Linked DNA regions of Homo sapiens. The protein of the gene in region 2 interacts with the protein of the main gene of each other region in a pairwise test. Each region holds a gene or a part of one and is shown on either strand. Other genes may lie near its edges.

Evidence for each region.
Region 1: the proteins of FDFT1 (region 2) and SHPRH interact in a two-hybrid assay, tested with the Homo sapiens proteins (one large-scale study listed by BioGRID and IntAct).

Annotation. Positions count from the first base shown.
Region 1 is NC_000006.12:145,940,256-145,944,078, forward strand, and holds part of SHPRH (E3 ubiquitin-protein ligase SHPRH), read right to left. Parts: intron 3,548-3,823; coding exon 2,888-3,547; intron 1,620-2,887; coding exon 1,368-1,619; intron 769-1,367; coding exon of another isoform or gene 691-768; exon of another isoform or gene 669-690; intron 547-668; coding exon 468-546; intron 1-467. UniProt on the Homo sapiens protein: E3 ubiquitin-protein ligase involved in DNA repair.
Region 2 is NC_000008.11:11,809,239-11,813,061, reverse strand, and holds part of FDFT1 (squalene synthase), read right to left. Parts: exon of another isoform or gene 3,572-3,823; intron 3,396-3,571; coding exon 3,212-3,395; intron 1-3,211. UniProt on the Homo sapiens protein: Catalyzes the condensation of 2 farnesyl pyrophosphate (FPP) moieties to form squalene. Proceeds in two distinct steps.

The DNA.
Region 1 (3,823 bases), on a different chromosome or scaffold from region 2:
CTAAAATTATGGCCCTAGTATTCCTGGGTTCACACAATAAAAATTATAGTCTCCATTTTCATAGACACAGTTAATTGAAATTAATTCCCTTTCTCTCTTTTTCTGCCTCTCCCCACCCCCCCCACCCTTTGTTTCTTTTTGGGTTAGATTCTTTGTTTTCTACCTATGACTTTGGAACTCTAATTTTAATTCAGACCTATATCTATGCTGTTTAGGCAGGTACAATAATTGTTCAACTTAAGGCAATGAGACCTCTTAATATATATCGGTCCTCATATACATAAACAGAAAAATCACCTGAGTCCCATTTAAAAAGATAAATGCTTGAAACTATTAGGAGTCAACTATAAAGACATGAATCATCACTTCAATAGGGACTGCAGCAAAGGTTAAGCATAACAATACTTTTCTCTCTAAAAAATGAAGCTTTTCAAATGCATGCAATATGTGAGGAAACCATACATTACCCTCTAATCCTCTCTGTACTGGAGTGCCACTGATACACCATCGATTAATCCCACTCAAACGCTGGGCCATTTCTGCAGCCTGATGAGAGGGAAAAATGAAATAAAAATGAAATCCAGAAAACCACAGAAAGAACACAGAAGTCAGGCATACTCATGAAAAACAGCCCATTAAAAGCTACACTTCTGGTGAGATGTACCTACTTTTATTTAACAGTTATCACACTCAATGTTGAATGTCATATTCAATGGACCATCTTCCAGTACAGTGGTTCTCATTAGTGGGAGGCTGCCACGCAGTCCCCTAAAACAGAGGGGTAGTTCAAATACGTACAAAATGAAAAAGCCCCCTGAATAACTGATCCATGCCCTGCATCACTCTATCCTCCAGATATACTAACAGACATGATTCATACATTCAGTTCAGGTTACAGACTGGCCAAAGACAACAGAATAAAGACATATGACATTCAAAGGCTGAATCAAAATTCTGTCCTCTAAAGTAGTATTTTCTGTTACCATTTGGCCTCTGATTTAAAAGACTGTCAAAGTCAACTTTGGTTCAAAGCTATCAGAGGCTACACGATGAGCTCCCAGTTAGCAGAAATGCTTACAGAAGTTCCTAAACACAGTTTACTTTGATCTGCATCATATATAAACAGACATCTTACTGAAAAATATATATTTCATATAGAGCAATGAGTCACAGAGTACAGAACTAATTTCAAAGGGTTATGTAGTTCAAAGCACAAGAGAAAAGCACAAGTAGTGTTTAATAACAAACTTTTGACCAATATCAGTACTACAGGTTAACTATGCTTAAACTATTAAACTACTCAAGGTCCCCTAATTCCTTTTCACCCTTCTTCCCCAGCCCTCAAAAGATTTTGCAGAAACTCTCACTTTTACTGTGGGACACTCAACCATCTGAGCTTCATCAAGGCAGATCCTCCACCACTCCACAGCTACCAGGGGGCTCGGGATAGCCATATAGCGCTTCTGGTTCCGTAGGCGACGCCCATCCTCACTATTGCTATGTGGGATATCGACATAATTTAATTCTGAACGCAGTACATCATAGGTAATGATAACTATATCCTGTTCTGCCAAAAAATGAGGTTGTAAAAAGCCATCTTTCTTCACTCCTTGATATACCTAGGAAATAATCAATACAGGCAGTTATTGCAAAAAGGCTCACTAAAGGCAATGAAATATTCACTCATTTATACCCTTACTAAGTCCTCTCTATTTTCTTAGGAGCATTCATGCTATGAGACAGATCCCATACCTGTTTGGAGAAAGACATGTTTTAGTGTGGAAGATGAATTACATAACTGATGTGCAACAAACTGTAATAAATGTGAACATGACAGCATCACAGTGGAAAGACCAATTCTGTAGCGGAGAAGGTAAAATCACAGAGGAGTTAAAACCTGAGGTATATCTTAAAGGTTCTCATAGGTGGCAAAAAGAGAAAAGGGCTATATGTAGGTAGGAGGATGGAATCAATAGCATATGTGAAAGCACAATGGTATGAAAAAGTAGAACAATAAGAGCTATTATTTATGAAATGCCTTTTATGTTTCAGATACTGTGCTAAGCATTATCTCCAAACTTCAACAATAATTCTGTTGGTGGTTGTTAATATTCCTATCCCACACATAAGAAAAATAAAGTGACTTGCTCAAAACTGATGGAACTAAGACTCAAAGCTTTGCCTACCCACACAGAATAGAGCTTCTTAACAGCAAAAATTGTTTTGCTTATTACAGTATTCTCCATGCCTATGTAAAGTGGATGAAATACAAAAACCTTCAGTAACACTTGCATGGAAAGAAGGAAGAATGAAATTAGTGAAGGGTATTAATATTAGGAAACAATAACATTACTATGTGCCCAGTACTTGACAAAATCATATCTTCACAAATGACTGGATACTATTTTTAAAACTCAGCAGTTCCTGGCACATAATAAGTGGTCAATAAAGATTTGCTGTATAAGTAAATTCTTATTTTACAGCTGAGGTAACTGAAGCTTTAGAGGATGATTTTGGAGCTAAGAGATGGCAGATCAGATAAGTAGCTCCTATTACACAGTGCTGCCTTTGGATTGCATTTCTCTCTGAAGACTATAAATGCTTATACCAAGAATTTCTCATTTACATACTCAAGAATTTTTAAAAAGCTTCCACATCTTTATACTCAAAATGCTTTAATTGGTGAAATTCTGATGTTAGAAAAGAATAACATTGTACTGTTCTAGTTCTTAGTCTCAATTTTTTTCTTTAAGCTTTGATTTAACATTACTATTAAATCATTCAGTTAGTTTTGAGGATAAACCACAAAGAAACAAAGATTAGGAAACTATCATGAAGAAGCAAAACTTTACATTTTCCTCTCCCTCTTTAGTCCAAGTGGCCTTACCAAGACTCGAAGAGATGACGACCTCACATGCCTGTTGATCTCATCCACCCACTGGTGACAGATGGAACTTGGAGAGATGATCAGAGTTGCTCTTGTTGACACTGGTTCCATTGCAACAAGGCAGTGGGGGCAGTAAAAAGGCTTGATCTTCAGATTTTTCTCATCATAATTCACACACTTTGCATGTTGCCACAGGTGACACTTCAGGCATTGAACACGAGGCTTACGATCTATCTGATCAAGTTCACCACATATACACTCAAAGCGGTAATCAGAGGTGTTAAAGGGACTCATGGTATTAGAAGGTGGTACATCACTATCAGCATGATTTAGAGATTCAGCACAGTCCTCTGTTTCATGTTCTTGGTTGAATTCAGAGATACATGTACTTTTAGACATAGCAACATCAGTTATTCCAGAGTCGCTAGTAGCTGGACAGTGACCTTGTGAATCGGGATTGATAAATGGTTGACTTTTTCCTTTTTTTGTGGATGGAACAAGCTTTTTCCTCAATTTACTGCGATTTCTCCTGGACTTATAATAATAATAGTAAGGATCATCATCATCATCAGAGGTGTCTGATGGCAAGTATTCAGAATCTGTGTCCTTGTTCCCTGATTTTCTAGTTTCTTTCTGAATTTTCCTTGGACTCCCTACTGCCTATGAAAAAAATATTTAATTAATTGATTGCAACTAGTTGCATTTCTGAAATTAAACTCCTGACTTTATGTAAGTACTTCATATAATTATGTAGCAGCCAGTCTTTGCTACCCTTTTCCCTGAGGAGAATCACTCCTGATAAGTGGCTTCCAATCTGCCCTCTGTAAGGACCCTCACTTCATCTCAAAACAAAAGGAAGGCTCTACAAGTGTCAGATTTGGAGAGATGAAAAATTAGAAAGATAAAGGAAGCTACTGATATTTTGTTATTTACCTA
Region 2 (3,823 bases):
CCTGTAGAGATGTGCAGCCTTGGAGCAATGGCCTGTACCACAGAGCCTACGTCTGTAGTAGCTATGCCATCTTGGTATGTGTAAGTACACTCTATGATGTTCACAGAATGATGAAATCATCTATCAATGCGTTTCTCAGAATGTATCCTGTGGCCATTCATTAAGTGATGCATGACTGTACTCTAATCGAACCCCTAACATACAATGAGATTTCTAGAAAGCCTGACTTGAACTGGTATCAACTAATGATCACTAAAGTATAAAGGATCAGGTTCAATCTACTGTACATCGAGGCGGAAGTCACTGGGTTAGAACACTGTATTGAGGCTTATTCCTAAATTCTGCAAGGCCTGGGATAAGAGGACAAATGGAGGCCCACATACTATATGTAGCTAAAAATTTAAAAATGATCAATCGAGCTAGTAACTTAAGTAAAATATATTGTATCCTCCTGCACTGACAAACTTATCTTTGTAACAACCTGGTTGATTCAGGTTTGAATTTAGAATTCTTAGTCCCTCAGAGTTTTATTCCAGAATGCAGCAGGGCACAGACAGCTGATCCCCATATCCCAGGCTCTTCCCTTCCACTGCTTCCTGAATCCCGCTCTCTCCAGCACTGGGAGGCACCTCACATTCATTTGAGAGGATATCCCAGCCCTCGGTGCCAGGATCCATCCACAACACTCCCCAACACAGCCCTTGGCCATCACTCAGGCCCAAGGGCACAGTCAATGGTGGCACGTTCCCACCTGGAGGAGATGGACTGACCTTAGGAAATAGACTGTGCGGACGCAGACGTGGGCTCAGGGATTTGGGGCAAGGAACTCCAGATGTCCAGAACGTGGTACAGAAGGAGAGCCCACGAGAGCTGAACAAGCACATTCCCATGGCCCCAGTGATCCCTCACCCCTTTGGGAGTGAGGGGGCCTAGAATGGGGCACTCTGAAGTGAGGAGTTTCACTTGCCCCAGTCTAAGAGCAGTACTGTGTGTGAGGCCAAGGTATCAGTCCTCTTTCACACTACTTGTTCCATCCTGGGACCTCTTAGCCAAAAGCTGATTGCAGGCCTAGCCCCAGACAACTGGTTTCAAAGACATACTGAGCTATATCAGCACATACACAAATCACTCCTTAAGAAGACAAGGCACTGTTAATTCCCATACAGTCCCATCTCAAACTGAATCACAGACTGGAGGGACCTACAACTCAAGTAGCTTAAAATTATATATGCACGCAAAACACACAACTTAGTACATCTTCATATTCGTAAGGATACAAAAGGTGAACAACAGTGAAAACAGCCGTGCCTGGCTTACGCCTTCTGCTCCCTTTTACTCTTCCCGGGGCAACTGTGCTTTCAAGAGGATGGAATCTCTAACTCTACTACCCAAAAAAGAAAACGATGAGTTCAGTGTTCACATCTGAAACCTTCCAGAACTAAGCATTATTTTTCCACTGGAACACTGTATGAACACAGGAAGACACTGAAGTTTCACAAACATGTTGGAATATCATCTGGAAATCTGACGGCGATATTCCCCAAAATTATGTTAGCATTCACACACTTTCATATTCCCTCACTTCTGCTGAGGGGATAGGGCTGCCTTGACTTAGCAATACCTAACACATTTATCCCATGCCCCAGAAATTTTTTAATTATTATGAATCCACTCAAGTCAAATGTAATTTGGCTGTTTCTAGAGGCTAGGTCCAGCTAGAATAATATTAGTTGTTTTTAAGTGAGAATGCACTTCCATTATAAATGGGGTATTACTACTTCCTCTGCTTCAGCAGAATTCAGAGGCCCATCAATGAATCGCCACAGATTTCCCATCAAAGGAAACCCATCCTCTGGTCATCAGGTGTCCTGTGAGAGTCAAATCACCAGGACCTTCCCAGGGTTACAGTTCTAATTCTCACCCAGCTAGTCGTCATAAATTTTCTTTCTTCTCTTGAATTGTACTGTATAAACTCGAATTATTCTTCAGCTATTTTCTTCTCATTTGTATTATGTTGTACTATATTTGGGCTTTGGTACTTAAGGTCTGATCTCAGCAATCTGAAACAGCCTTTGCACCGCAAGAGTCTTCCCCAAACATTCCTTTTTTTTTTTTTTTTTTTTTTTTTAAATATTGCTCCCATTATGCCCAAGAATCAAAGATTCTTTTGTTTGGGTGGAGGACTCTCTGTCCACTTAGCTCCCTCCCAACTCAGCTACAGATTAGGTTTGTTTCAATAACATAAGGACTGTTCTCCAAAAGCTCTGGCAACTGTGGACAAAAAGGGCTTCTTCGAGCTATTACACAACATGTGACTTTGCTAAATCAAACCTTTATTTATAAGATATGGAAGAATCAGTTATTTGTGTGATAAGACATGCGAATTCTAGGATAGTAGGACCTAGGCAGATGTCCACATGAACTTGAGGGACTTTAAAAATCTTAGGATTTTAACTATAACCCACTTTACTCCAACAAAATAGACCAAATAGCTAATACTTACAGAATACTTACCCTGTACCAGGCACTAAGTACTTTATATGTGCGAAATTAATCCTCTCAGCTCTAACTTTACAAACGAGGAGACGGAGACACAAAGCAGATAAGGAACTTGCCCAGGATCACAGGTGAAGTGGCAGAGGCTCGCCCTAGCTGCCAACAGACACCGCCCCCATGCCAGGCTGCTGCCCATCGTGAGCAGCAGTCCCATGCTACCAGGCTCCGGGTAGTCAAGAGGCCAGCAGTGTTACAGGTAGGCTGCATCATACAGTCGGCAGGCTTTTGTGAGCTAGCCTGAGAATCTTTCACAACACTAAAATTTGACTGCGTCTTCCCACAGGAAGAAACACTGGACTTCCAATACTGATAATAACAGCAGTAGCTAACATTCTAAGAGCATTACCTACGTTAATTCTTTGAATCCTCAGAATACCATGAGGTAGGTGTTATTATTACCCCTATTTTACAGATGAAGAAACTGAGGCACAGAGAGTCTTTGTAAGTAACCAACAGTTTAGTAAGTGGGAGATTTGAGATTCCAACCCAGGCAGCCTGGCTTCAGAGTCTTGGCTACCGGAGTTTTTAACCCTCACATTATGCTGCCCTCAGAATGCTTATTTAACCTTTCTCCACATGTATGGAGGCTACCGGACAACCACGTTAGCAATTATGAACACAACAGTCCGTAGACAAGATGCGTAACCCCACTCACCGTTGGGAAGTCCTCCAGCACCTGGCGATCCTTCTCCTTGCTCTCCATGAACCGCCAGTCTGGTTGGTAAAGGAAAGAGTGAAAGTTGTGTAACAGCGGGACCTTCTTTTCCACACTGATGGTCATGTCATCTTCCAGTGTGTCCAGAGCTCGGAGAACCAGATAAAATATGCACACTGCGTTGCTGTAAAAAAGGGAAAACTATTAATATATTGGAACAAACAGCCAAAGATTTTTTATTTTAAAATAACTTGTGCCTGGCCACTTTCTAAACCCATCTCACCCTTAACTCTAAAGAACTATAAGGATATCCAACGCTTTTCATACTTAACGAAAGTTACATTAGTTTTCCTTCCTTACATGAGAGTAATGAACTTCTGTAGTTTATTAAAAAGCCTACTAGTTGAATGTCACCACTACTCCCAGAAGTGAGTTGCATTTAACCAATGTAGAACTATGGAGACCAGAAGACCAAACGTTTAGACCGAACTAATATGTAGCAAATAGAAAAGAAAGTCAAAAAACACAGTAACTTCTCAGTATAAATACGATCATACATAAAGGCAACTGGTCTAAGTTCATGGGTGTAATGTGCACAGAGGCAGCTTCAAA